5 separate regions of the Homo sapiens genome follow, and all the other regions are linked to region 4. The links come from fine-mapping of genetic effects on gene expression. A gene starts in region 4. Each other region holds a variant in brackets. All regions are shown on one strand. Distances are from middle to middle. Region 1 has its middle 7.1 kb from the start of CYP2A7. Region 2 overlaps ACTMAP (actin maturation protease). Region 3 holds the start of MIA (MIA SH3 domain containing). Region 4 holds the start of EGLN2 (egl-9 family hypoxia inducible factor 2). Region 5 overlaps SPTBN4 (spectrin beta, non-erythrocytic 4).

Region 1 (5,864 bases), 90 kb before region 4:
TTCATTGACAACATTAGTATAATGTTAACAGCTCTCCTAAGGGAGTCAATACAGTAAGTCATGTGGACTACTTACCAAAGAACCTGGCATATAGGGAGTGCATTGCAGTCATTTCCGGTTTTATTGTTTTTGTTGTTGTTGCTACCTACCATGACCTTGGAAGTTTTGCTTTATTGAAGCCAGTTCTCCACGGCCACTGAACTCATCCGCTTGGTCTATCAAGGCTTCCTTCACTGCTTCGTGTCCACATAAAACCACCACTGGCCGGGACCCATGTACACAGTGAACACAGGGCTGTATTTCTCCCTGAGCTTGGAGTGAAGGAAAACACAAGAGGAGGGGCTGACTGGAGTACCAAGCATAGGCCAGTTGAGGATTTTAGAGGATGGCGATTTTAGAGGGATATAAACATGGTACTAAGGAACCAAGGTAAATCTGGGCTTGGAAGGAATACTGGGAAAGAGGCACGGAAGTCTTGGCTTCTGTCATTCTCGGCAAAAGCTCATCCCTTCCCACAAGAGTTACTGTCTGCATCTCCAAAATAAGGGACCTGGATTCGATAAATTCCAAGATTCATACTTCTCTCTCTGAAATGTTAAATTTCTAGAATCTTAAGACTTCATGATACCAAGTCTCAAAGTGCTAAGACAAGCTGAGTCAAAGAATCCTGTGTTTAAAAATATAATGTACTGTGATTCCAAAGTCCTGAGATCATGAAAATCTTATTTCAATGCACTGAGAATGTGTGTTTCCAACATTTTAGGATTCTGGAATTTCAGAATTCTAAGATTTGCAAAGTCTGTGTTTCTGAGAGTCTATCTTTTAGAAGTCATAAGTTTCTATGTGAATCTGGCTATAGGATTAGTTGCTTTTAGCCCTATTAAAGGAGACAGACAGACTCACCTTCATGAAAGACTGAAACGTAGCATCAGTTCGAACTTGCAGCAGGTGCCCCAGGAAAAGAATTGGTGTAGGACCTGGGGGCAGCTTTCCTGCCTTATCCATTCGTTTCCAGGCAATGAGGATGAGCAGGCAAGACAAGCGGAGTGCCAGAAAGATGGTGACAGCCCCTCCCAGCTCCATGGTGCCAGGTCAACAGGTTCTGTCCTGGGCACCAGATCCTGCCTAAGTAGGTCCTGGGAGATCAGCTTATACCAAAATCTGAACACCCTGGGATTCAAGTTTTCCGGGTTTGAGTGTCATCGGGGAAGAGATTGCTTTATATTGGGGGTGGTTATATAACCTATAATCTCCCACCTGAATAAAGGTAAATTGAATTCACACAGGGAAATCCTCTGGGGCCATTCCCCTTTCTTCATATTTCCAGTCTCCCTGTTCTTCCCTCTCAGCTCAACAGAATTGAACAGAATTTCTTGGTGGGGTGTAAGAGGCAAATTATTATCTTTTTAGGCTATTGATTTTAGGATCCAGACAATCTGGGTACAAGTGGCAGCTCTGTCTTTTCTTCACTGGGAAAGTCACTTAACCTCTGGGACTTGTTTCCCCATCTATCAAACAGGGAAACCATGTTGTTTTATTTTTTTTTATTGTTTTATTTTTTGAGACAGATTCTCACTCTGTCACCCAGGCTGGAGTGTAGTGGTATAATCTCATTTCAACTTCTGCCTCCAGGGTTCAAGCGATTCTCATGCCTCAGCCTCCCAAGTAGCTAGAACTACAGGCGCACACCACCATGTCCAGCTAATTTTTGTATTTTTGTAGAGATGTGGTTTCACCATGTTGGCCATGCTGGCCTCGAACTCCTGGCCTCAAGTGATCCACCACCCGCCCCCCCGTTAGCCTCCCAAAGTGCTGGAATTACAGGCGTGAGCCACCACAGCTGGCAGACCATGTTGTTTTAGAAAGTCTTGATAGACAACAAGGAAAACTCTTTGTTCGTTACTTAATTAAGTATAACCCTAATTAAACAGTTATTAAATTTTTTTAATTGACATAATAATTGTACATATTTGTGGGGTACAGTGTGATGTTTTTATACATGTATGCGATGTATAACAATCAAATTCGGGTAATTATTATATCCATTACTGAGACATTTATCATTTCTTTGTGGTAAGAACATTCAAAATCCTCTCTTCTAACTATTTTGAAATATGCAATGTATTATCGTTAACTACAGCTACCCTACTGTGTAATGGAACACTAGAATGTTAATAAGGAAAGTAAGCTGAAGATTTAGAAAACAAGAGAAATAAATCAATTGAACAGGTTTTGTTCAAAAAGTTCTTGTTTTCTACTCAAGATGTTAAATAACAATAATCAAAGATTACTTGTGTTGGTGTATCAGAACTTTGCTGTATCAAATTTAAAAAAGAAAAAAAGAACTTTGCTGTATTGTGTGTTGGTGTGTGTGCGTGTGTGTGTTTTAAAACTCTAAGGTGTAGGGATCACCTCTGAACCCCAGTCTCTGGAGGAGAACATCTCCTCCAGCGCAATTAGTGATTGTGTTCCTTAATAATCTAAAAAGTGATTCACTACCTTTTCCGCACCAAATATTTTCAAAGCCTTATTGGCCTGAAATGAACTTCCTGGATATTATATCCTACCCACATATACTATTTATCAAAATTCAATGTCCTTTTCACACGACTGTATTCTCAGACTTGGAAACTGAATCCCTCAAGGTATCTGTAAGTTTTGGGAATGGGGTTTGGCTGGCTGAGCTGAGGCATCCTGTGTCCAGAAGCAGTGGAAATTCTACGAAAACTGAGTGACTCACACACAGTGCCACGTTCTGTCTCTTGGATCTGCTGCTAGAATGTCTTTCTTGGAGTA[G/C]AGACTCAGCTCAGCCCATCTCCTTTGACTCTCTTAGATTTCACCTCCCCATCCCATTCTGATCCTCACACCCCAGCATTTAACACCCATTCAGGGTGGTGGCATGTGTGTGGTGATGGTGAGTCTGGTTTTCCTACTCAGACGGGAAGGGAGAGAGCAAATACTCTTAGAACAGCTCCCTTCACCATTCCACCTCCAGATAGGAAGCCAGGAGTGGAGGAACTTGAACTAAAAAGTAGAAGCAAGCTAAAGAGGAAAAATAATTGCAGAGGACTTGAGGCAGAGAAATTCAGAGCATGGCAGATTATGCCAGGTATTATGTGATGGAGACAGAAATCAAGATTGAGACAAAATCGAGGTGCATAGAAACAGAACCAGAGTGAGATCAAAATAGAGATGAGGACAGGCACAGTGACTCACACCTGTAATCCCAGCACTTTGGGAGGCCAAAGCAGGTGGATCACCTGAGGTCAAGAGTTCGAGATCAGCCTGGCCAACATGGTGAAACCCTGTCTCTACTAAAAATACATGCACACACACACACACACACACACACACACACACACAATTAGCCAGTCATGGTGGCGGGCGCCTGTAATCCCAGCTACTCAGGAGGCTGAGGCAGGAGAACTGCTTGAACCCGGGAGGTGGAGGTTGCAGTGAGCCAAGATCGCACCACTGCACTCCAGCCTGGGCAACAAGAGCGAGACTGTCTCAAAAACAAAACAAAGCAAACAAAACAAAATTGAGATGAGAGAGAGAGAGATTCAGTGAGTCAAAGATAAATGTCAAGGAGGACACAGAGACAAAAGACAATTCAAAGAAACAGAGAGAGGGAGATAGAAGCAGAAAGAATAAAAGACAGGAAAAAAGTTTCAGTGAGACAGAGACTGAGAAAGTGACATACGGCTGAGAAGAGAATCAAGAGGAACCCAAAGAGTGGACGCACCCATGGCTCACAGAGAAATCCAACTAGACAAAAAGTTGGAGGTGGAGATGAACAAAGAGAAAGGCAACGAAACAAAGAGATACAGGGACAAGAGAGAAACCCAGGTCTAAGTGGGATAGAGAGAAGGAGATTTGTGCTCCAGAGGGTGTGTGCATGAAATGGAACCTGGGTCATTTTTTGCCTAGTCACATGGCCCTCCTTCTGGGACTAAGAAATGTGATGCTGCCAGAATATTTTTTTTTTTTGAGATGGAGTCTTGCTCTGTTGCCCAGGCTAGAGTGCACTGGTGTGATCTTGGCTCACTGCAACCTCCACCCCCGCCCCCGGGTTCATACTTTGTTTTGTTTTTATTTTTAATGTTTTTGATTTAAAATGGTTTTTTTTTTTTTTTCCTGAGACGGAGTCTCGCTCTGTCGCCTAGGCTGGAATGCAGTGGCACGATCTCTGCTCACTGCAACCTCTGCCTCCCAGGTTCGAGTGGTTCTCCTGCCACAGCCTCCCCAGTAGCTGGGACTACAGGTGCACGCCCGGCTAATTTTTGTATTTTTAGTAGAGACAGGGTTTCACCGTGTTGGCCAGGATGGTCTCGATCTCCTGACCTTATGATCCACCCACCTCAGCCTCCCAAAGTGCTGGGATTACAGGCATGAACCACCGTTCCCGCCCGGCCTTAAAATCTGTTTCAACTGGTATAAGTTATAGCTACTACTGCTTGCTGTTGGTTTTTGTCTACATGGAATATCTTTTTCCATCTATGTACTTTCAGTCTATATGCATCTTTACAGGTAAAATGAGTTTCTTATAGGCAGCATATAGTTGCATCATGTTTGTTTGTTTTTGTTTGTCTTGTTTTTGAGACAGAGTCCCTACTAAAAATACAAAAAATTAGCCGGGCGTAGTGGTGGGCGCCTGTAGTCCCAGCTACTTCAGAGGCTGAGGCAGGAGAATGGCATGAACCCGGGAGGTGGAGCTTGCAGTGAGCCAAGATTGTAGCACTCCACTCCAGCTTGGGCAACAGAGCAAGACTCCATCTCAAAAAAAAAAAAAAAAAAAGATTGCACCATTGCATTCCAGCCTGGGCAACAGAGCAAGACTCCACCTCAAAAGAAAAAAAAAAAAAAAGCTGTTCATCCCTATCATCTATCCAACTTCTTTCCCATCTCTGAACTCTAAGTCCTGCCATTTTACTGGTAGGGAGGAACTTCATGGCCATGGATGTGAGCTATCCAAACACTCAGAAAAAAAGAATCTTGACTGTCTTCTCTTCTTTGACCTTCTTCACTCTATTTTCAGCCAACATTCCCACAGCCCCACCCCCCAAATCCTTGTCATCAATCTGAAATGTGAAACACAGACATTTCACTCTCTGGCCACAACAACTAGTACCCCAACTCCCCCACTGCTTCATTGCCAATGGCATGAGGGGTATACTGGCCAACTAGGTCTTTGGTTAAGCTTCCAAAAAGTGCAAACACTACAGAAGGTCAAGTCTCCCTCCTATTAAAAGACTTTTTTTTCTAACATTTTGAAATCCTTTGTTACATGTTTACATGGAAGTATTTGAAGAAACACAAGAGAGTACAAGCAGTTTTTCTAATGTTTCATAAAGAAAAACAGGTGGGGCCTAGCAGTCCAAAGTGGTGATTAACAGCATGAAACTTACATTCACAGCCAGGCATGGTAGCTCATGCCTGTAATCCCAGCACTTTGGGAGGCCGAAGTGGGCAGATCACCTGAGGTCAGGAGTTTGAAACCAGCCTGACAAACATGGTGAACCCCGTGTCTACTAAAAATACAAAAATGAGCTGCGTCTGGTGGCTATAATCCCAGCTACTCGGGAGGCTGAGGCTGGAGAATCACTTGAACCCAGGAGGCAGAGGTTGCAGTGAGCCAAGATCGCACCATTGCACTCGAGCCTGGGCAACAAGAGCAAAAGAGCGAAACTCCATCTCAAAAAAAAAAAAATTTACCATCACACAAGACCATACTAAGACTCTACACTCATTAGCTGTGAAATGCAGAAGCAAGTCACTTATGACCGGCTTTGGGGGAACTTATCTAACTCATTTGCAAAATGGAGATGATAAAGCTAACCTCAGTCTTGCAATCAGGAGTTCAA
Region 2 (5,864 bases), 55 kb after region 4:
GCACGGTGGCTCATGCCTATAATCCCAGCACTTTGGGAGGCCAAGGCAGGCAGATCACCTGAGGCCAGGAGTTTGAGACTAGCCTGGCCAACATGGCAAAACCCTGTCTCTACCAAAAATATAAAAATTAGCCGGAAATGGTGGCACACACCTGTAATTCTAGCTACTCGGGAGGCTGAAGCAGGAGAATTGCTTGAACCCAGGAGGTGGAGGTGGCAGTGAGCCAAGATCGCACCACTGTACTCCAGCCCGGGCGACAGAGCAAGACTGCATCTCAACAAAAAAAAGGAGGCCGGGCATGGTGGCTCACGCCTGTAATCCTAGCACTTTTCAGAGGCTGAGGCGGGTGGATCACCTGAGGTCAGCAGTTCGAGACCAGCCTGACCAACATGGAGAAACCCCGTATCTACTAAAAATACAAAAAAGGGCCGGGTGCAGTGGCTCACGCCTGTGATCCCAGCACTTTGGTAGGCTGAGGCGGGCAAATCACGAAGTCAGGAGATCGAGACCATCCTGGCTAACAGGGTGAAACCCTGTTGCTACTAAAAATACAAAAAATTAGCCAGGTGTGGTGGCGGGAGCCTGCAGTCCCAGCTATTCGGGAGGCTGAGGCAGGAGAATGGCGTGAACCCGGGAGGCAGAGCTTGCAGTGAGCCAAGATCGGGCCACTGCACTCCAGCTGTCTCAAAAAAAAACAAAAACAAAAACAAAAACTTAGCCAGGCATGGTGGCGCATGCCTATAATCCCAGCTACTCAGGAGGCTGAGGCAGGAGAATCGCTTGAACCCAGGAGGCGGAGGTTGTGGTGAGCCAAGATCGCACCATTGCACTCCAGCCGGAGCAACAAGAGGGAAACTCTGTCCCAAAAAACAAACAAACAAACAAACAAAAAGGAATGAATCCCTCAGGGCCAGACTATCTGAGTGGCCTCCCCCAGGGTACAAAGATTCACTATCAAGGTGATGTTTTAGGCCTTAAGCATGTTGTTACCTGGTTTTATTCAAAGTTCAGTTAAGGGATTTTCATTGTTGAACAGCCCAGGAAACAGACTTGAAGCGAAAAACAAATCACAGAGTTTGGAGCCTGGGCAACATATAGCATGATCTCATCTCTACTAAAAATAAAAAGAGTCGGGCACGGTGGCTCACGCCTATAATCCCCAGCACTTTGGGAGGCCAAGGTGGGTGGATAACCTGAGGTCAGGAATTCGAGACCAGCCTGGCCAACATGGTGAAACCCCGTTTCTACTAAAAATACAAAATTAGCTGGGCGTGGTGGCGCATGCCTGTAATCCCAGCTACTCGGGAGGCTGAGGCAGGAGACCCACTTGAACCCGGGAGGTAGGGGTTGCAGTGAGCTGAGATCGCGCTGTTGCACTCCAGTATGGGCAAAACGAGCAAAACTCTGTCTCAAAATAAAATAAAATAAAAAGAACTAGCTGGACATGGTGGTGCATGCCTATACTCCCAGCTACTCAGGAAGCCGAGGCAGGAGGAATAACTTGACCCTGGGAGGTCGAGGCTGCAGTGAGCTTTGATTGCATCATTGCATTCCATCCTGGGCAACAGAGCAAGAAAAAGAGTTGGAGATAGAGATACCACTTTGAGAAATTTCCTCAGATAAACCTGGTTGCAAAGTGCCACCCTTTGCTCCTCACCCTTCAATAACTGAGAGAGCGAGCAGGGAGCAGGCAGGCAGAAGGACCATTCCCACAAACCAGATGAGGAAACTGAAGCTTGGGGAGGGGAAGTCAGTGACTGAACCAGGAGCCGCCTTCAGCCTTAGGACAGCCAGGCCCATATTCCCTTCATCATCCCTGGATACGACCACTCCCAGCCAGACCTCAGGGTAGGGGGTGCTTCAGAGCTGGCTCCCTGGTGACTGAGCACGGCTCTGCTTCAGGTTCCGAGGTGACCTGCGGTGGATCCTCTTCTGTGCAGACCTGCCGTCCCTCATCCAAGAAGGCCCTCAGTATGTGCCCTGATGCGGGAACCCCAGCCCATCTGCTGCCTTTACTCTGCCCTTGCTGGGCTTCTTAAGGACTGATCTGGAGAAGAGGAGTGGATTGTCCCTGCTGGGAGGAGGAGGGAAGGAAAGGGGGAACTTTCCACTCAGGCTTCTGAGTGCCTGCATAGTAAACATAGTTGGGACATGCGAGGAATGAACGAATGAGCCTGGTCCATCTCTCTAACTCCACCTTGGTTCCTCCTCCCAGGAAGCTCAGGTGACCTCTCCCCCGCCTTCCACCCCCAGCCCTCCAGCCCTGGGCTCTCCCCTGAAGGGGAGTCAGGTCTCCCTCGCTGGCCTGGGAGAGGGGAGGGGGACTCCTCCAGGGCAGCAAACCTGTTCCCCAACTCCAGCTTCCAGGTAAGGGGGCTGTGACATAGGATTGACAGGCTGGGCCTCTCTGTCCCCAGATGCGGGCTGGTGGCCTTGTGGATGGCAGGTACTCTCCTGTCGCCCCCCAGTGGCGTCCCCCTGGAGAGACTCATACGGGTGGCCACGGAAAGAGGCTACACGGCCCAGGGAGAGATGTTCTCAGGTGAGCTGGGTGACTGCATGCTCCATCATCTCTTCATGAGGCTGGGACCAGAGAGGCTGGGTGGGATGCTGGCAGCCGTGTGTCAGGGTGTCTCATTCCATTCTTTGGGCCCTTCCCACTGCCCAGTAGAGCAGAGAGGTTACAAGATGGACTTGAGCTGGCTGCCTAGGTTGCAAACCCAGCTCTGCCACCTCTTCGCTGGGGCCATGGACAAGCCACTCACGCTCTTTGTGCCTCATTTTCTGCATTTGTACCAAGGGGTGGAAGGTCATGGTGAGGGTTGGAAGCATCGCCCACTGTGAGCCCTCAGCACGGTGCTGGGCACATGCAGCAAGCCCCCTCTGTGTGCTCTCACCCTGCAGTGGCCGATATGGGCAGGCTGGCCCAGGAGGTGCTGGGCTGCCAGGCCAAGCTGCTCTCTGGTGGCCTGGGCGGTCCCAACAGAGACCTCGTCCTGCAGCACCTGGTCACTGGACATCCCCTGCTCATCCCGTATCCCAGGGCCTGGGAGAGAGGAGGGCAGGGGTGGCAAAGGGTGGGTCCCAGGGCCACACCATCGTTTTTACCTTAATGCCAGCACCAGCTACGACGAGGACTTCAACCATGAGCCGTGTCAGAGGAAGGGCCACAAGGCACACTGGGCGGTGAGTGCAGGTGGGTTCCCCCTCCTTTGTCTGCACCCCTCAACCTGGGTCTCCCCGGCCTCCATTAATCCTCCTGACATTCTCACCCCTTGTGCTGGTGCCTCCCCAGCCAGGCTGGGCACTTAGCATTAGCACCGGGCAGGCTGGGCCCCAGGTGTCTGCCAGTTGGAGCTTCTACAAACAGAAGCTCAGAGCACAGATTTCAGGATCAGACCGTCTGGGCTCCAGGCCTGGCACAGCCTCTTCTAGGCTCTGTGACTCTGGGCAGGTATCATCACCTCTCTGGACAGCTCCTTTCCCCATCTGGAAATTGGGGGTAACAGTACCCACCTCATAAGGCTGCCTTGTAGGCAGAGCACTCAGCACTCTTAGA[A/C]CAAGGCTTGGCCAGGCGCGGTGGCTCACGCCTGTAATCCCAGCACTTCGGGAGGCCAAGGTGGGTGGATCGCTTGAGGTCAGGAGTTTGAGACCAGCCTGGCCAACATGGTGATACCCTGTCTCTACTAAAAATACAAAAATTAGCCAGGCGTGGTGGTGTATGCCTGAAATCCTAGCTACTTGGGAGGCTGAAGCAGGAAAATTGCTTGGACCTGGGAGGCGGAGGTTGCAGTGAGCTGAGATCGTGCCACTGCACTCCAACCTGGGTGACAGAGCAAGACTCCATCTCAAAAAAAAAAAAAAAATAGAACAGGGCTTGGCGTGTGACATGTCTCTGTAAGTATTACCAGCACCGTTTTCATCATTCCCCCTGCCTGAAAGAAAGAAGGCCAGGTTGGTCCGCGTCAGGAGGTCCGGGGGAGGCTCCGCTCAGCTTCTTCATGGCTTTGTGGTCTTGACAGCTCCTCTTGGAGCCTCTTCCCTAAAGAGCTGAGGATGACCGGGTGACGGCATTTGCTTCATCTCATGCTGCCTCCCCACCTCCCCTGTGCTCAGGCCAGATGAGGCAAGACTTAAAACACCTACAGCTTTGGAGCCGGGTGCCACGGTGGGTCCAAATCCCAACCCACTGGCCACCACTAACGTCACCGTAACCTAGGAATGGCAGCTGCACCCACCCTGGAGGGCCGGGAGAGGGCGGAACTTAGTGAGCCCCAGCACCTGGTCCTGGCTCAGTCACTGCCACTCACCACCTTCTCCTCTCCCCCAGGGGTCCTGCTGGGTGTTCGGGCTGTGCCCAGTCTCGGCTACACTGAGGACCCTGAGCTGCCGGGCCTGTTCCACCCAGTGCTGGGCACGCCCTGCCAACCACCATCCCTGCCAGAGGAGGGCTCCCCGGGAGCTGTCTACCTGCTGTCCAAGCAGGGCAAGAGTTGGCACTATCAGCTGTGGGACTACGACCAGGTCCGGGAGAGCAACCTGCAGCTGACGGACTTCTCGCCCTCACGGGCCACTGACGGCCGGGTGTACGTGGTGCCCGTGGGTGGGGTACGGGCTGGCCTCTGTGGCCAGGCCCTGCTCCTCACACCACAGGACTGCAGCCATTAGCTGCGGCTGCGGTCTCAGGCTGCAGCCTAGCTCGGTAACCATTTGAAGTGTGCCTACACTTCTCCCACTGTGTGATGGCGACAAGATTGAAGCTAGGTCTCAGGGGTCTCCAGTCCTCCTTCATCAGGGCCACCCCCTGCAGTATTGAGCACCAGCTGGTCCCTCTAGGGAGAGATTGACAACAGCCCGGACCCTGCGGCCTGCCTATTCCATCTGAATGTCGCATCGTCTGTTTCTCACTAGGGGCCGCCTCTGTCATCTCACTAGACATTTGAGGAACCTCCTGCCTGGGCCCTCTGCTTCTCACAGGACAGGGACACTGAACTGCGTCAGCCTCAGCTCACCCCTCCTTAGCCCAAGGTCTTCCTCATGCTTGCCACCTACTAGTCATACTGGCCTTTTAGATCCCTGAAGTGTTGTTCAAATCCCCGGATCATTGAGTCCCACCCCCAGCCCTCTGCTGCGGATCACTCCTTAACTTTTCCATTGGGGCTCAGGTATCACTACCTCAGGGAAGAGTCCTGCAGCCCCAGTCAAGACACCCCTCCCCCACCTCATGTCTTCACAGTTTTAAAGCCCATCTGGGAGCAGTTACCTGTGCCAGCCCCTCTACCTGTGTTAGCAGATCTGGCAACCCTGTAAGGGGGGTGCTAGATGGACCCGATTTGACAGATGGCAAGACTGAGGCCTGGAGAAGTGGAATCACTGGCCTGAGGTCACATGACTAGCACATGGCAAGGTCAGGATTCAAGCTAGGTAGTCAGTATCTCAGCCAGGCTGTCTCCTGGCTCCCTGAACATTATGGTGCTGACCACAAACTTTCCTGTCCACTTATACAAACTTCTAGTGAGTGTGTGTGATTACTAGCTTCATGAATACCTGACCCCTCCACTCTGAAGGAGGAACAGGCCTGTCTGGATCACTTCTCTGTCCCTAACTGAGCCCATCTCATTTAGGGAAACTACAGAGCACTGTTGCTTTTTTTTTTTTTAGATGGAGTCTCGTTCTGTCGTCCAGGCTGGAGTGCGGTGGCGTGATCTCAGCTCACTCCAGCCTCCACTTCCCAGGTTCAAGTGATTCTCCTGCCTCAGCCCCCCAAGTAACTGGGATTACAGGCATGCACCACCATGCCTGGCTAATTTTTTGTATTTTTAGTAGAGACGGGGCTTTGCCATGTTGGCCAGGCTGGTCTCGAA
Region 3 (5,864 bases), 26 kb after region 4:
CAAGCAATCCTCCCACCTCAGCCTCCCGAGTAGCCGGGACCACAGACACATGCCATGAAGCCCAGTTAATTTTAAATTTTTTTTTATAGAGATGGGGGTCTTGCTATGTTGCCCAGGCTGGTCTCGAACTCCTGGGCTCAAGCTATCCTCCCAACTTGGCCTTACTTGGGATTACAGGTGTGAGCTACTGTGCCCGGCTGCTGCTATTTTTTATGCCTTGCTTTTTGTTCATTTCCCTCCATTAGAATAAAAAGGATCATTTGTTGTTGTATCTTGGTGTCTAGAACAGAACGTGGGACCATATCAGGTCCTAAAATTGGTAAATAAAGTGAAAATAGGCTGGGGGGCAGTGGCTCACACCTGTAATCCCAGCACTCCGGGAGGCCAAGGCGGGCAGATCATGAGGTCAGGAGTTCAAGACCAGCCTGGCCAATATGGTAAAACCCTGTCTCTACTAAAAATACAAAAATTAGCCAGGTGTGGTGGTGCATGCCTGTAATCCCAGGTACTTGGGAGGCTGAGGCAGGAGAATCGCTTAAACCCAAGAGGTGGAGGTTACAGTGAGCCGAGATCGTGCCATTGCACTCCAGCCTGGGTGACAGAGCAAGACTCTGTCTCGGAAAAAATTAAAAAATAATAAGCAAATAAAATAAAGTAAGTAACAATATCCCCCCACAATGTCTATTTCAGTTCACCCCCCTCAAATCTTCCCTTCATGGGGATAATGAGTCTACCCCAGCTCTGTACCCTTCCCTCTTTCACTCTCCCAAGACTCACGCTGCCTCCCCAGAAGAGCCGCCCACGGCCCTTCAGCTTGGAGAAGACATACACCACTTGGCCCCGGTGAATGGTCAGGAATCGGCAGTCGGGGGCCATGTAGTCCTGAAGGGCCACAGCCATGGAGATAGGGTCTAGGGAAGGAATAGAAGGGAATGCAGCACCCTCCACACAGGCTAACGCCCAAGCCCCCAATTCTCCCCTCCCCATTCTTACGGCTGCACTCCTGGTCCGCACACAGCTTCCGGTCAGCCAGCTTGGGCATAGGACCACCCCTGACACCAGGTCCGGAGAAGGCAGACAGCAAGATGATGACACCAAGGCACACCAGGGACCGGGCCATCGTGGACTGTGAGCAAGAGAGTGAGCAAGGGGGTGCTGGGGTCTCCAATTTCCTCCCCTCCCTCTCTCCCGTAGTACAAGGAAACTTGTGTTCTTGGTCTTGTCCCCGCCCTAAACCAGTCCCAAACTTCGCCCACACCACCTAGAAGTTGCTATGAAACCAGAACCATTTCAAGGATAGGGTAAAGGCTGTAAGCCCAAGGAAATTCCCAGATAAGGTCCAAAGCAGCTCACAACTTTCCCAGTGACAGCCCCCTCCTCAACAATCACAGAGGCCTAGATAAGGTGGTTGAAATATTCAATTCCATCTTCTCTTGAGTTGGCTTAGGTACCTGGGCTCCTCCGCTGTCCCCTCTGGCCACAGAAGCGGAGGAGCCTGTAAAGAAAACCACCTTGGAATTTCCTGTGCTGTGGGGCAGGAGAACAAGGCAGCCCTTTGATTACCAGAAACAGCCCAGCCCTTGAGTACTGACTGAATATTGTATGCTGAACCTTAGGCTAGGCAAAGTCCCACCATGATCACTATTCCTCTGCACCAGACGCTTCCCACTGGATGACCTGGGCTAAGCTATTTCTCCTCACAAAGCCTCAGCTTCCTTATATGTAAAATGGGAACAATAAAAAAGCCAATAGTTACAGAGCATTCACCAAGTACATATTTATGTTATGAACTCAAATGGATACTCTGTATCATGTCAGGAGGAGTGATTATAACCCCTCCCTTTTTTTTCTTTTTTGAGACAGGGTCTCACCCTGTTGCCCAGGTGGAGTGCAATGGTGCCATCCCGGCTCACTGCAGCCTCAACCTCCTAGACTCAGGCAATCCTCCCACCTCAGCCTCCTGAGTAACTGGGACTACAGGCACAAGCCACCTATGCCCAATTAATCCATTTTTTTAAATAATTATTTTGAGGTAGAGTCTTGCTCTGTTGCCCAGGTTGGAGTGCACTGGCATGATCCTGGTTCACTGTAGCCCCTATTTCCTGGGCTCAAGCATTCCTCCCACCTCAGCCTACCGAGTAGCTGGGACCACAGACATGTACCATTATGCCCAGTTAATTTTTTGTATTTTTTGGTAGAGCCGGGGTTTCGTCATGTTGCCCAGCCTCGTCTCAAACTCCTGGGCTCAAGCAATCTGCCCACCATGGCCTTCCAAAGTGCTGGGATTACAGGCATGAGCCACCAAGCCCAGCCTAATTTAATTTTTTGAGACAGGATCTTGCTGTTGCTCAGGCTGAAGTACAGTGATGTGATCATAGCTCACTGCATCCTCAAACTCCTGGGCTCAAGAAATCCTCCCCTCTCAGCCTCTCGAGTAGAATAGTAGGCAAGTCACCATTCTTGGATGATTTCTTTTATTTTTATTTTTCTAGAGCCAATGTCTTACTGTGCTGCCTGGGCTGGTCTTGAACTCTTGTCCCCAAGTATCCTCCCGCCTTGGCCTCCCAAAGCACTGGGATTACAGGCATGAGCCACCAATGCCTGGCCTATAACCCCTTGTTACATGGAAATGGAAGTGTGGAGTTAAGGAACTTGTCTAAGGCTTACAGAGCCAGGAAGTGGAGAAGTGGAGAGGCTAAGACTTGTATCCAGGCCCACAGCCATTGCTATGCTATCTTTTTTTTTTTTTCTTTTTTTTCTTTGAGATGGAGTCTCATATTGCAGTGGTACAATCTCAGCTCACTGCAACCTCCACCTCCCGAGTTCAAGCAATTCTCCTGCCTCAGCCTCCCGAGTAGCTGGGATTACAGGCATGTGCCACCATGCCCGGCTATTTTTGTATTTTTAGTAGAGACAGGGTTTGTCCATGTTGGCCAGGCTGGTCTCGAACTCCCCACCTCAGGTGATCCACCCGCCTCGGCGTTCCAAAGTGCTGGGATTATAGGAGTGAGTCACCGCGTCTGGCCTGAAAGATTTTTTTTTTTTTACAGGCAGGGTCTCACTCTGTCACCCAGACTAGAGTGCAGTGCCACAATCACAGCTCACTCAGCCTTGAACAACTGGGCTCAAGCTATTCTCCCAC[C/T]GCAGCCTCCTAAGTAGCTGTGACTATAAGTGTGAGCCACTGCACCTGGCTTTGAAATGCAATTTCTTTTTTTTTTTTTTTTTTTTTGAGACATTGTTTCGCTCTTGTCACCCAAGCTGGAGTGCAATGGCACGATCTTAGCTCACTGTGACCTCCCCCTCCCGGGTTCAAGTGATTCTCCTGCCTCAGCCTCCCAAGTAGCGGGGATTACAGGCATCTGCCACCATGCCCAGCTAATTTTGTATTTTTAGTAGAGATGGGGTTTCACCATGTTGGTCAGGCTGGTGTCAAACTCCTGACCTCAAGTGACCCACCCACCTTGGCCTCCAAAAGTGTGGGGATTACAGGTGTGAGCCACCGCACCCGGCCCCACTTTAAAACACTCTTTAAAAAATTATTTCTTCATTCAGGCCAGACATGGTGGCTCACTCTTGTAATCCCAGCACTTTGGGAGGCTGAGGCAGGCGGATCACTTGAGGTCAGGAGTTTTGAGACCAGCCTGGCCAACGTGGTGAAAATACAAAAATTAGACAGGCATGGTGGCACACACCTGTAGTCCCAGCTACTTGGGAGGCCGAACCAGAATCACTTGAAACTGGGAGGTGGAGGCTGCAGTGAGCCAAGATCACGCCACTGCACTCCAGCCTGAACGAGAGAGTGAGACCCTGTCTCAAAAAAAAAAAAAAAAAAATCCGCCGGATGCAGTGGCTCACACCTGTAATCCCAGCACTTTGGGAGGCTGAGGTGGGTGGATCACCTGAGGTCAGGAGTTCAAGACCAGCCTGGCCAATATGGTGAAACCCTGTCACTACTGAAAAATACAAAAATGAGCCAGGCATGGTGGCGCATGCCTGTAGTCCCAGCTACTCAGGAGGCTGAGGCAGAAGAATTGCTTGAACCTGGGAGGTGGAGGTTGCAATGAGCCAAGATCATGCCACTGCACTCCAGCCTGGGTGACAGAGTGAGACTCTGTCTCAAAAAAAAAAAAAATCATTTCTTCATTCATTGAAGATTTCATGAGTACATAAAGTATCCTAGGACTTAATCCAGACCCTGGAGATTCATCAAGGAATGAAAATTAAAGGGGAGATAATCAATGAACAAAGTTCAGATATATGATAGTGTGTGAAGTATTAAGGATACTCAGAAAGAACACTCAAGAATCAGCTGTGGGAACCGTGCCCCCTGCCCCATATTACTGATGAAGCCACAAAGAAATAGAAGTGACTTCAATTCCCAAAGCACAGTGCATGTATCTCCTGCTGCATAATTAGCCTAAGACCAACATTGCCCCAGTGCAGTGGCTCATGCCTGTAATCCCAACACTTTGGGAGGCTGAGACAGGAGGATTGCTAGAGCCTAAGAATTTGAGACCAGCCTAAGTAACACAGGGAGACCCTTGTACCTACAAAAAGAAGAAAAAAAGAGAAAAACTAGCTGTGCATGGTGGTACAAACCTGTAGTCCCAGCCACTCAGGAGGTTGAGGTGGGAGGACCACTTGAACCCAGGATGTAGAGGCCGCAGTGAGCCATGATCGTGCCACTGCACTCTAGAGCAAGAACCTGTTTAGAAAAAAAAAGACCAAAATTATCACCTTTTCTGTGGGTCGAATGTCTCAGGCTTAAGGTCTGCTATAAGGCTGCAATCAGCCTGTCAGCCAGGGGTGCAGTTTCATCTGAAGGCTGAATGGTGGGAGGACTGCTTCCAAACTCATTCAGGCAGCTGTTGGGGAGATGCAGTTGCTTGTGGGAACTGGACTGAGGGCCTCTGTCCTCAGTTTTCTTGACACGTGGACCTCTACAGACAGCTTGAGAGGTGAAGATGGCTGGGCCTCTGGGCCGGTGAGGACTTGGAGAACTTTTCTGTCTACCTAAAGGATTGTAAATGCACCAATCAGCACTCTGTGTCTAGCTAAAGGTTTGTAAACACACCAATCAGTGCTCTGTGTCTAGCTAATCAGGTAGGGGACTTGGAGAACTTTTCTGTCTAGCTAAAGGATTGTAAATGCACCAATCAGCGCTCTGTGTCTAGCTAAAGGATTGTAAGCACGCCAATCAGCGCTCTGTGTCTAGGTAAAGATTTGTAAACGCACCAATCAGCTCTCTGTAAAAACGGACCAATCAGACTCTGTAAAACAGACCAATCAGCACTCTGTAAAATGGACCAATCAGCTATCTGTAAAATGGATCAATCAGCAGGATGTGGGTGGGACCAAATAAGGAAATAAAAGCAGGCCACCCTAGCCAGCAGCTGCAACTGGCTCAGGGCGCCTTCCATGCTGTGGAAGCCTTGTTCTTTTGCTCTTTGCAATAAATTTTGCTGTTGCACATTCTATAGGTCCACATTATCTTTATGAGCTGTAACACTCACCGCGAAGGTCTGTGGCTTCACTCCTGAACTCAGCATAGACTACAAACCCACCAGAAGGAAGAAATTCCAGATACATCTGAACATCTGAAGGAACAAACTCCAGGCACACCATCTTTAAGAACTGTGACACTCACTGCGAGGGTGCATGGCTTCATTCTTGAAGTCAGCGACGCCAAGAACCCACCAGAAGGAACCAATTCCAGACACAAGCTCACAACGTGGCAGCTGGATTTCCCAACAGCAAGACAGAGGCCAGTCTTTGTACCCACCCTTTGTACTCTTCCTCCATATTGCAGCCACAGGAGCAGGGCCACTGAGAAGCACAATTTTTTTTTTTAATTTTTTAAAATT
Region 4 (5,864 bases):
TGCTTCTCCTGCCTTGGAGACAGGATGGATGGACTAGAAACATGGGCCAGCAAACAGGGATGGACGACAGGAGCACAGGGAAGGATGTGGACAGGGACAGACAGCAACAGAGAACGGCCAGGTGAACTGTGTGCCTATCTACATCCCCGTGCTTGGTCTGGGGCCACAGACTGACACCAGGAGGCCATGAACCCCACCAAGGTCCACGCTGTGAATGTCAGCAGCTCTCATGAGTTTAAGAGGGTTCCTGGCAAAGTCAAGAACCACTGTGGCGATGCTTGAAGGCAGCATGCTCGTTAAGAGTCATCACCACTCCCTAATCTCAAGTACCCAGGGACACAAACACGCAGAAGGCCGCAGGGTCCTCTGCCTAGGAAAACCAGAGACCTCTGTTCACTTGTTTATCTGCTGACCTTCCCTCCACTATTGTCCTGTGACCCTGCCAAATCCCCCTCTGCGAGAAACACCCAAGAATGATCAATAAAAAAAGAAAAGAAAAAAAAAAAAAAAAAAAAAAGAACCACTGTGGCTCCAGGACAAACTCCTAGCTTATCAGGTGCACACATTAAGGCCCGTAGGGAGGATAAAGACCCCCCCAAGTCCCCACAAGTAAGCATACCCACTCCACTGAACTGCCTAAACCTTCTGTGACCTCCCAGAAGCCTGTCTCCAAACCCACTGTGCTCAGAGCACTGAATGCTGCAAACCAGGGTGCTGCAAAGCCCCTCCAAAGAGGCCCCCACCTAGCCTTACCTTGGTGCGCCCGTTGATGACATAGCTGCCCAGCCGCCCTGCGCAGTGGCGGATGACGGCGTCCACATGGGCCATGAGGGCACCAATGCTTCGACAGCCTGGTTCATGGCCTTCCACCCAGGCAATCTGGTCCCCACGGATGCTGCGCGGCGGGATCGCCCTCTGGCTCACTAGCTGCCCGTCTCGCAGGCGCCCACCCCGTTTGAGGGCCTCCACCTCGGCCAGCACGCGACCGCCCAGTGCTGCCCCCAGGAAGCTGTCCTTGACGCAGATGCCGTAGTACCGCATGCAGGGCACGATATAGTCCAGGGCCAGGCGCTCGGGCGCAGAGGGCAGCGCCTCCTCCATCAGCCCAGCACTGGCCTCACCACTGCCACTGCTGCAGCTGCAGCTCATGCCACCCTCCCGCTCTGCCTCCTGGTTCTCTTGCCTGGCCCAGGGCCGTTTGCTGGGTGAAGGGGCATCCCCACCATCCTCGGCCCATTTCCGTTTGGGGGCCTCAGGCCGTGCGCCCTGGGCTGCCAATCGCTGGCACCCCTTGGTGACCAGCGCTGCAGCGCCTTCACTCTGCAGCGGCCGCAGCTCACCACCATCCTGCCCGCCAAAACCGTCCCGAAGAGGGCTGGCAGTGGTAGAGGTGGCTGTGGCTCTGGGGGTCCCACTCCCTGCCGAGGCCTCACTAGGCACTCCTGGACAGTGGTAGGAGGGGAGCAGGGGACAGGGCAGGTAACTCTCCACTCCCATCCTGGCCCGGCCAGGCTCAGGCTCCAAGGGCTCTGACGAAGACCCTGGTAACTGAGGGAGAGCCTGACTTAGGGGCTGCGGCTGGCACGGGCTGTCCATGGCAGCAGTGTCTTCATCCCCCGGGCATGGAGGGCACCGCCCGGGCCCATGGTGCCACCCTCCTCCGCCTCCTCCTCCGCCTCCACTTGATGCAGCTGGGGGCCACCGGGCCTGGCGTGGGGCAGGGTGAGGCAGGGCAGACAGCAAGAGCTCTTCTCGTGCCCTGGGGGTTGCTTGCTGGTCCCCAAGTCCTCTGCGGTCCCTAAGGGCTTGGGAAGGGACCCTTCAGGGTGGCTAGAGAAAGGAAAAAAAAAAAGGGATGTGAGAGAAACTAGAGACAGGCAGGCAGGGGAAAGCCGGGATGGTATGGGCAGGAGTGGGGAAGACGACCAGGACAGACTTGACTATAGAGGCCCCCCAAAACCTGAGGCCAAGTCGGGGAGAGGACCCTGAGAATCTGGAGGTGCGGGAGTCCGCTGACAGATAAGAGGCAGTGATAGGGAGAGGCTGGAGGCCAGGGGCTGGGTAGATGACCCTAAGACAGAGGACTGTGGTGCAGGTTGTGGGACGCGGTAACCAAAGACAGAAGAAGGAGGGCTGGAGTAGAAAAGGGTGGTGTGGAGGAGTGGGAAAGGAGGGGGTTTGGAAAATAGGAGGGACCTGCCTCGGCGTTCCAGAAAGACAACGAGAAACGTGGGGGTTCCAGGGAGAGTCAGGGTGGGGGCGGGGGGGTCAAAAGACAGAGGAAACTGGGGAGTCCAAAAACAAAGAGAACGAGGGGCCCAGAGACAGAAAAATAGACCGGAGGGAAGCTGGGAGGGAGGACCCGGGGCGGAGCGGGACGGTGGGGTCGACCCGAGCCCGACGGGAGGAAGCCGGCCGGGGGCGGACACACGCCCAGACGGAAGGGAGGTCCCGAGACTGACCGACGGGAGGGGCCCTCGGGGAGAGGGTCCGCGGCGACAGAGGAAAGGACGGAGGAGGGTGCACGCACCCGGAGACAGGACGAGAGATAAAGGTGCCCCCATCCAGGGCACCCCAACGCCCCCAACCCGGGGCAGGCCCTGAGGCCCCTTCTGAGCGCAGTAGGCGACAGGGGCAGGGCCTAAGGGCCGCTCGGACCCCCTCCCCTCCCCCTCCACTCGGCCTCCGCCCGGCGCGCGCTCCCCGCCCCCACCCCAACCCCCACAACGGCCGGCACCCAACGTAACCGGCGCGCGTCCCCTCCCCCGCGCCGCACCCACATCCCCCTTCCCGGGGTCGCCCCGGCAGGCCCCGGCGCGCGCCCCCACACCCCGCCCGGTTCGCGCCGGCGCCCCGGCTCCGGCTTAGTCTCCTCCCGCTCCCTTCTCGCCCCGCGACCTCCTCACCGAGCTTTTTCCTCCGGCCCCGGCGCCGCCGTTTGTGCCAGCCGCCCTGCGCCGCACAGCGCGCCATACCCCGCCCCCACCGCGCGCGACGCCCCGCCCCGCCTCGCCCGGTGGGCACGTGACCGCGCCCCGCGGAGGGGACGGCGCCTGCGCAGGCCCGAGCCGCGCGGGGCGGGGCGGAGCGGGGCGAGGAAGTTCGGGACAACCCCCCTACCAAGGAGAAAGGAAACAGCGGTCCGTGGCCTACACGAGGTTCATTTGCATCCTCCGCCCCGCCCCCTTTGCGCGGGAGGGGGAACGCAGTGTGAGGGGCCGGGTCTGGGAGGGGGCGTTTCTTGCATGTTGGAATCAAGTGGCGTCGGCGGGGCGGGGCACGCAAATGATGTGATTTACATGGACAGGCCTACCCGCCCCCCGCCCAGCGCGGGGCACCGAGTTCGGCAGCGCGGTGCGCGTGACTTCATTTACATGGTCAGCTCCTCCTCCTTCTCGCCGTCCAGGAACGGAGGTGAGAGACGGAGAAATGGCTACGCAGTTAGTTGAGAAATGTATGTAAATTCGCACGTCAGTAATTTACATAAGTATCTTTTATAACGGAGGCAAAAAAGTGCGGGTTGCCCTTGAGAAAAGGGAACGCGGACTAGAAGGGATGTGCAAATGTGTATTTTCAAGACCCGCTCCGGCCTGCCCCCTCGGGACGATTGTGGGAATCAGAATAAAGAACCAGGGAAAGTCTGGGCAACGGAGTGAGACCTTATCTTTACACAAAATTAAAAAATGAAACAAAAAAAAATCCACGGAACGCTACACAGAGAAGACATTTGCATGGCCAGCTGGGAACACTTTAGGAGACTAAGGAGATAAGGTCATTTTGAATGCCCTGCCCGCTCCACCATTGCTCTGGAGAGCTGGGACTCAAGGCTCCCGCCGGGTCGGTGAAGGCCGACGTGGAGATGGGAGGGCGACGAGCAACTGGGAGTGTCCTCGGGGCTGCACCAGTCCCCTGCAGGCCACCTGAGGGCGTAGGGCGGTTCGCGTGAGCACAAGGGCATGCATACTGGTATCCACACATGCGTGAGGATTGCACAAAAGCCCGCAGTCCTCAGGGCACACACAGGGTTCATGGCCACACAAGGGTGTTTCTAGTTTAGTTTTGTTTTTGAGATGGGGTCTTACCCTTTTGCCCAGGCTGAAGTGCTGTGGCATGATCATAGTTCACTGCAGGCCCAACCTCCCAACTAAAGTGATCCTCACACCTCAGCCTCCGGAATAGCTGGGACTTCAGGTGTGTACCACGACACCTGGCTAACTTTTTCTGTTTTTTATTTTTGTAGATAGGGTCTCTCTGTGTTGCCCAGGCTATAGTCTCCAACTCCTGGGCTCAAGTGATCCATCTGCCTTGGCCTCCCGAAGTGCTGGGATTACAGGCATGAGCCACCACGCCTGGCCACACATGGGTGTTTAAAAGGAGCCAAATTCACACCAAAACACACACAGACCTCGGGGTACACATGCACAGGCACACACGCAGTAGTGAGTCACTGCCTCTGACTCTCAGGCATCAGACATGCACACACCGGAGGCCCACCTATAGGTCCAAATTCCCATCCCCTGGCCTTGATGTCCCAAACAATACCAGCCTCACCAATACAATGACCAAGGCCACAGAGCAGTTACGGCTGTCAGCATCACACACAACCAGCACACATTATATCCTATAGACATCATCCCATATGCAGGTACTGGAAACATGTACACATGTCACAAACACAGGGACATCAGCGTGTTTACACACGTGAGCTTAGAACACAGATTGTCACAAACTGTCCACACAGTAACAAATTCCCTCCCTCCGCAACAGGCACCTGAGTCATCATGCTTGGTATACCCCACACCACGTCCAATCAGGAAACAAGGCCCCCAAGGCCAGGCCCAGTGGCTCACACCTGTAATTCCAGCACTTTGGGAGGCCAGCGCGGGCGAATCACCTGAGGTTGGGAGTTCGAGACCAACCTTGACCAACATGGAGAAACTCCATCTCTACTAAAAATACAAAATTAGCCAAGTGTGGTGGCACATGCCTGTAATCCCAGCTACTCGGGAGGCTGAGGCAGGAGAATAGCTTGAACCCGGGAGGTGGAGGTTGTGGTGAGCCAAGATCACGCCACTGCACTCCAGCCTGGGCAACAAGAAGGAAACTCCATCTCAACAACAACAACAAAAAAACAGAAACAAGGCCCCCAAACACCATGACACATGATTCTTCCATCAGGGACCTCTTCCATCTCCCTGCCATCTCACAATAATGGAGGCCAAGACACAGGTGTAAACAATGCTTTATGGGGGTAGGGTGGGTGCTGGACAGGCCTCCAGGTAATAAATAACAGGTACTAGCAACAGCAGGGCCAGATGGGGAGTTGGGGACAAATGACCCTGGTCTCAGGCTTTGGGAGCTCTTGGGGTATGGTTAGGGGTTCAGGGGGACAGACGTTAGCCAAGACAGAGGAAGCAGCAGCAGGTACGGGATTCCCCCTTCCCCCGTGGCTCAGTCTTGCCCCAAAGCCAGGCCCCACCAGGCCAGGGAAGGGGGACAGGTGGCAACGTAGCTTCTCCGGGGCCAGGGCAGGTTAGGACACGGCCTCTCAGAGCCTGGGCCTGGGCCCCAGCAGGGCTGGTCCTGGAGAACAGGTGAGCTGAAAGAGAAGGGTGTGGTGACCTGCAGGGTCCCCGGGGTCTGTCCAGCCGGTCTCTATCTCATTTCCAGGTATTTCCTTCCCCTCCTATCTGCATCGGTCTGTCCATACCTTTCTTCTCCCGGTTTCTACATTGTCTGATTTTCCGCCTCTCCCCTGCAGGTAATTTGGGGCTTGTGCTGAGGGTACCTGCATCTCCCTCTTTGTTTGCCTCAGAGAGCTGTCTGAGTCTGTAAAGCCACATTTCAACATCTAAATATCATGA
Region 5 (5,406 bases), 300 kb after region 4:
CACTCACCTCTCCCCCATTGCCTATGCCAGCCCCTGCTACTCTGCACCATCACTCCCGACTCTGACCCTCTTGGAGAGATATGGACCAGCCTCAAGACTCTCTTACCAGCTCTGTGGCCTGGACCTCGGTTTCCTCATCAGAAAGAAAAAAGCTGAGCCCCAGCTGCTGTCAGCTCTCACAGCTAGCCATGGTGTTCTGTCTCTGTCTCCCTCTCTCTCTACCAGTCTCTCTCTGAATGTTTCCATCTCTCGTGGACTCCACATTTCTGGGCTCTGTCTCTGTCACAGTGGCTCACTCTCTGCCTCCATGTCTTTCTTATCTATACATCTTTGTCTCCATCTTTCTCTGCCTCTCTTTCTACATTTCTACCCTTTTCTCTTTCTCTCCATCTCCTGTTCACCTTCCTGTCTGTGTCTCCTGTTCACCTTTCTTTCTTCCTTCCTTCCTTCCTTCCTTCCTTCCTTCCTTCCTTCCTTCCTTCCTTCCTCCCTTTCATTCTTTTTTCTTCTTCTTTTTTTGAGACAGAGTCTGCCTCTGTCACCCAGGCTGGAGTGCAGTGGCGCGATCTCAGCTCACTGCAAACTCCACCTCCCAGGTTCAAGTGATTCTCCTGCCTCCCGATTAGATGTACTTCGCCCGGCTAATTTTTGTATTTTTTAGTAGAGATGGGGTTTCGCCATGTTGGCCAGGCTGGTCTTGAACTCCTGACCTCAGATGATCTGCCTGCCTCAGCCTCCCAAAGTGCTGGGATTACAGGTGTGAGCCACCGTGCCCGGCTTCTTCTTTTTTTTTTTTTTTTTTTTTTGAGACAGGGTCTCACTCTGTCATCCAGGTTGAAGTGTAGTGGTGCAATCATGGCTCACACAGCCTCAACCTCCTGGGCTCAAGCGATCCTCCCACTTCAGAGTAGCTGGGACTACAAGCGCACACCACCACGCCTAGCTAATTTTTTTTTTTTTTTTTTTTGTACAGACAGGATCTCACTATGTTGATCAGGCTGGTCTCAAACTCTGGGGCTCAAGCAATCTGCCTACCTCGGCCTCCCAAAGTGCTGGTACCGCAGGTGAGAGCCACCATGCCCAGCTGGCTTCTATCTTTCTTGTCTCATCTCTCTCTAGATCTGGTAGGTCTCTCTCTCTCTCTCTTAAATTGATTCCATCTTCCTGTATCTTTCTCTGTAGTCATGTAGATTTCCATGTCACCTTTGTGTCTGCCTTCTCCTCTCTCTGTCTCTCTGATTTCCTCTCTCTCAAACTGTCACTATCTCTCTGTCTGCATCCCTGGTTTACTCTGTTTCTATATCTCTATGTCTTTTTTCATTTCTCTCTTTTTTTTTGAAACAGAATCAAACTCTGTCACTCAGGCTGGATGGAGTGCAGTGGCACCACCTTGGCTTACTGCAGCCTCTGCCTCCTGGATTCAAGCAATTCTTGAGCCTCAGCCTCCCAAATAGCTAGGACTACAGGCACACGCCACCACGCCCAGCTAATTGTTTTTTGTTTTTTTTGTTTTTTTTTTTGAGACGGAGTCTCGCTCTGTCGCCCAGGCTGGAGTGCAGTGGCGGGATCTCGGCTCCCTGCAAGCTCCGCCTCCCGGGTTCACGCCATTCTCCTGCCTCAGCCTCCCAAGTAGCTGGGACTACAGGCGCCCGCCACTACGCCCGGCTAATTGTTTTGTATTTTTAGTAGAGATGGGGTTTCACCATGTTGGCCAGGCTGGTCTGAAACTGCTGACCTCAAGTGATCTGCCCTCCTTGGCCTCCCAAAGTGCTGGTATTACAGGTGTGAGCCACCGTGTCCAGCATGTTTCTATTTCTCTCTATTTGTCTCTGTCTCTTTCTCATTCTGTGTTTCTTTGTCTGCCTCTCTTGTCCATCTCTGTATCTTTCTCTCCCTCTCTCTCTTGTTCTCTCTTTTTGTCTCCCTGGCTTTCTCTCTATCTTCTTCTATCTCTGCCCTTCCCTCTCCATCTCCAGCTGTCTGACAACTCTTTCAGCGTCTGCATCCTCCCCTCCCTCCTGGCACTCCACCCGCATCCCCGCCCCCCCGCCGGCACCTGCATCTCCTCCATCCAGTCCACCATGTACACCATCTCCTGGAAGACCTTCTGCAGGGCAAGGTTCTGCTCAAGTCGTGTCCGCCGGGCACCCACAAGCCCAGTTAGCAGGGCCCACTGGCGCAGGACGCTGTCACGCTGGGCTGCCACCCGCCGGATATCGTAGTAGCCTTCGGCTGCCAATGCCTGGGCCAGCTCCGCCACACCCTGCACCCGCTCCTCGTAGGCCGCAATGTCTGCCTCGATCGCTTCGTGTTTCTTCATGGCTGCCTCCACTGCGGGCAGCTCATACCCAAAGTTGTCCTGGGGCAGTGAGCCAGACACTCACCCATGCTGCCTCAGCAGTCCACCTGTTACCTTGACCCTGTGTGACCCTGGGG[A/G]CTCCCCACTCCATTACCTTGGAGACTGGCCCTGCCCTCCCTAGTTATCCTGGAGACCAGCCTCATCCTCCCCTGTTACCCAGGTAACCTGGAGACCAGCCCCACCCTCCATTGTTACCTTGGAGACCAGCCCCACCCTCCCCAGTTACCCTAAAGACCAACCCCCCATCCCCTGTTGCCCTGGAGACCAGCCCATCTTCCACAGTTATCCTGGAGACCAGCTCCACCCTCCCCTGTTGTCCTGGAGACCAGCCCAATCTTCCCCAGTTACCCTGGAGACCAGACCCACCCTCCCCTGTTGCCCTAGAGACCAACCCCACCTTCCCGTTTCCCCAGAGACCAGCCCCACTCTCTCCAGTTACCCTGGAAACAAGTCCCACCCTCCTGTTACATCTCTAACCTTAAACTTGTTACCCAGGAAGGAGGCCCATGCTTCCCCTGTCCTGGAGATTAGGGACCAGGTTTACCTGACTCTGTTACTTAGGAAACCAATTCTATCCTTCTGAGTTACCCTAGACACAAGATACAACCTCCCTTGTCACTTAAAACACTCCCCCATTCCTGAAAAGATGAATTCTGCCCTCTCTAGTTACCCTGGAGACCAGCCTCACTCTCCCATTACCCTGGAGATCAGGCCCATTCCCCTCACCCAACAATCACTTGGAAGGCCAAGTCTCCCATCCCCATCCTCATTTATCACCAGGAGACTAATCTAACTCTTCCCTGTTGCCTAGAAGATCAAGTCTCCCTCTCTGGTCCCAGGACCATCAGCCCCGCCCTCCGTCCCTTTACCCTGGAGCCAAGCCCTACACCTTGTACCTGGGAGACCAGACGCTGGTTCTCATTCAGCCAGCTCTCCCTCATAGCCACCTTGTGGTCAAACCTCTGTGCCAGTAGTTCCAGCTTCTCCTGCCGAATCAGCTCAGCCCGTAGGGCAGCCTCCCGCTCATGCTCAGCCTTCTCCAGCTCACCCCATGCCTGCAGGAGATGGGAGGAGGCACTCAGACTCTGACAGCTCCCCACAGTTTAATGGTCTTGACTTAGTCTGAGGTCACTCATAGCATTATGGCAACTTCATGCAAATTGGAAAAAATATTGCTTCCTTATGACACTTTACTACTGAAAAACTGTCAGAATGAATATCTAATCCATCATGTCTACAATGTGAATGATTCCCTTGAGCAGTGTGCAACCTATACAACTCCACAGTGCAACCCCGCCTCTCCCCTGCATCCCCGGCCTCACCTTGTCAATATCCCAGATGCCACAGCCCTCCCGAGGCACAAAGAGGCGACGGTTGCAGGCACGCAGTTTGCTCTGGATGCTGAAGAGCAGCACCTCTAGGTTCCCCTTCTCCTGGAACCTGAAGGGGCATGAGCTCAGGAGCCCTGCCGTCATGCCACCCCTGCCCACCCTCCCTCCAGAGCTGGGCCTCACTTGACAGGCTTCTCCAGCGTGCAATAGGCCGTGAAAGCCTGGAGTTGCTGCTGCACCCCACTTAAGGAGTTGGCAAATTTCTGATTGCTGATGAGGCCCACGGTGCGGTGGATCCAGGCCAGCAGCTCAGCCGCCAGCTCCTCGTAGCGTTCTATGATCTTCCCCACCTCCAATACCTGGTCCAAGACCTGACACAGCAGAGGAAGGGGGGTCAGCCTCATCCCACCCGTGCCTGCCACCAGCTTCCAGCTTCCCACTCACCCACTCCTTGGCTCCTTATACCTTCCCGATACGCTTCCCCTCCACAGCCAGAGCCTTCATCTTGGAGAAATAGTGGTAGAAAGAGACCACGTAGGTGATGATGGACTTCTCATCTGGAGCCTCCATGTTCACATCTGGAAGCAAGAGGGAGTGGGGAAACAAGACAGTGGGCACTTTGACAGAGTGCTTGAAGGTATTGGATGGAGGGATGGAGAAGCCACTCTCACTAGCTGTGTGACCTTGGGCAAGATAATTAACCTCTCTGTTCCTCAGGTTTTGTATCCGTCAAATAGAAATCTACCTCCTGGAATTAAATAGTGCCTGACACATATAAACCACCGCAGAGAAATAAGCTATACTTTTCTTTTTCTTTTCTTTTTTTTTTTAAGATGGAATTTTGCTCTTGTTGCCCAGGCTGGAGTGCAATGGCACGATCTCAACTCACTGCAACCTCTACCTCCCAGGTTCAAGTGATTCTTCTGTCTCAGCCTCCCAAGTAGCTGGGGTTATGGGCATGCACCACCATGCCTGGCTAATTTTATATTTTCAGTAGAGACAGGGCTTCACCATGTTGGTCAGGCTGGTCTCGAACTGCTGACCTCAGGTGATCCGCCCACCTCGGCCTCCCAAAGTGCTGGGATTACAGATGTGAGCCACCGCACCTGGCCTATATTTGTTTCTTGAACACACCTTTCTACCTTCCACCTCAGGGCCTTTGCATGTGCTGTTCTCACTGTCTGGAGCACTGTTCCTCTTCTGTGTTCCTAATTCCCACTTATTCTTCAGAGCTCAACTTTTTACTTTTTTTTTTTTCAAGAGATGGAGTCTGGCTCTCTTGTCCAGGCTGATTGTGCAGTGGTGCAATCATAGCTCACTGCAGCCTCGAGCTCCTAGGTTCAAGCAATCCTCCCACCTCAGCCTCCTGAGTAGTCAGAACTAAAGGTGTGAACCACCATGCCTGGCTCAACTCAAATTTCCTTAGACAAGCCTCCATGTTCACTCTGTCTATAGTTGATAATCCTCATGTTATTCTCCTCTTAGCATCTTATGATGTCCTTCCCAGAATGTATCACAATTTGTAATTACATATTCACTTATGTGATTATGTCATTATCTAGAGCTTGAGCTTCATGAGGACAAACACTATGCCTGTTTCCTTTCTTTTCCTTTCCTTTCCTTTCCTTTCTTTTCTTTTTCTTTCTTTTTTTTTGAGACAGTCTCAAGCTATTGCCCAGGCTGGAGTGCAATGGCGTGATCTTGGCCCACCACAAC

What was found. PIP is the estimated chance that this variant, and not a neighbour inherited with it, causes the effect.
Region 1: its variant is fine-mapped to the expression of EGLN2 in whole blood (TOPMed, PIP above 0.99).
Region 2: its variant is fine-mapped to the expression of EGLN2 in whole blood (TOPMed, PIP above 0.99).
Region 3: its variant is fine-mapped to the expression of EGLN2 in whole blood (TOPMed, PIP above 0.99). The same link has a PIP of 0.9 or more in blood mononuclear cells.
Region 5: its variant is fine-mapped to the expression of EGLN2 in whole blood (TOPMed, PIP 0.99).

What each region holds. Positions count from the first base shown.
Region 1 is chr19:40,886,438-40,892,301 of GRCh38, reverse strand. It overlaps the pseudogene CYP2G1P. Among named protein-coding and RNA genes, the nearest start is that of CYP2A7, 7.1 kb to the right of the region's middle. The variant G/C (reference allele first, on the strand shown) is at 2,797.
Region 2 is chr19:40,741,237-40,747,100 of GRCh38, reverse strand. It overlaps ACTMAP (actin maturation protease), which reads left to right. Exons shown (of 6, transcript NM_198476.5): 2 at 1,903-1,971; 3 at 2,418-2,542; 4 at 2,905-3,034; 5 at 3,126-3,196; 6 at 4,331-5,864. The coding sequence ends at 4,668. Among named protein-coding and RNA genes, the nearest start is that of ACTMAP, 6.3 kb to the left of the region's middle. RefSeq lists enhancers at 1,127-2,092, 2,093-3,059. The variant A/C (reference allele first, on the strand shown) is at 3,560.
Region 3 is chr19:40,770,799-40,776,662 of GRCh38, reverse strand. It overlaps MIA (MIA SH3 domain containing), which reads right to left and starts at 1,142. Exons shown (of 4, transcript NM_006533.4): 1 at 994-1,142; 2 at 778-911. The coding sequence starts at 1,120. It overlaps MIA-RAB4B (MIA-RAB4B readthrough (NMD candidate)), which reads right to left and starts at 1,126. Exons shown (of 10, transcript NR_037775.1): 1 at 994-1,126; 2 at 778-911. The variant C/T (reference allele first, on the strand shown) is at 3,143.
Region 4 is chr19:40,796,305-40,802,168 of GRCh38, reverse strand. EGLN2 (egl-9 family hypoxia inducible factor 2) reads right to left here and starts at 2,978. Exons shown (of 6, transcript NM_080732.4): 1 at 2,907-2,978; 2 at 754-1,830. The coding sequence starts at 1,596. It overlaps RAB4B (RAB4B, member RAS oncogene family), which reads right to left. Exons shown (of 8, transcript NM_016154.5): 8 at 5,227-5,599. MIA-RAB4B (MIA-RAB4B readthrough (NMD candidate)) reads right to left here. Exons shown (of 10, transcript NR_037775.1): 10 at 5,225-5,599. It overlaps RAB4B-EGLN2 (RAB4B-EGLN2 readthrough (NMD candidate)), which reads right to left. Exons shown (of 12, transcript NR_037791.1): 8 at 754-1,830. RefSeq lists enhancers at 1-364, 543-1,217 and silencers at 2,641-2,690, 2,841-3,200.
Region 5 is chr19:40,500,783-40,506,188 of GRCh38, reverse strand. It overlaps SPTBN4 (spectrin beta, non-erythrocytic 4), which reads right to left. Exons shown (of 36, transcript NM_020971.3): 8 at 4,156-4,268; 9 at 3,874-4,061; 10 at 3,682-3,799; 11 at 3,256-3,414; 12 at 2,057-2,359. Among named protein-coding and RNA genes, the nearest start is that of SPTBN4, 36 kb to the right of the region's middle. The variant A/G (reference allele first, on the strand shown) is at 2,437.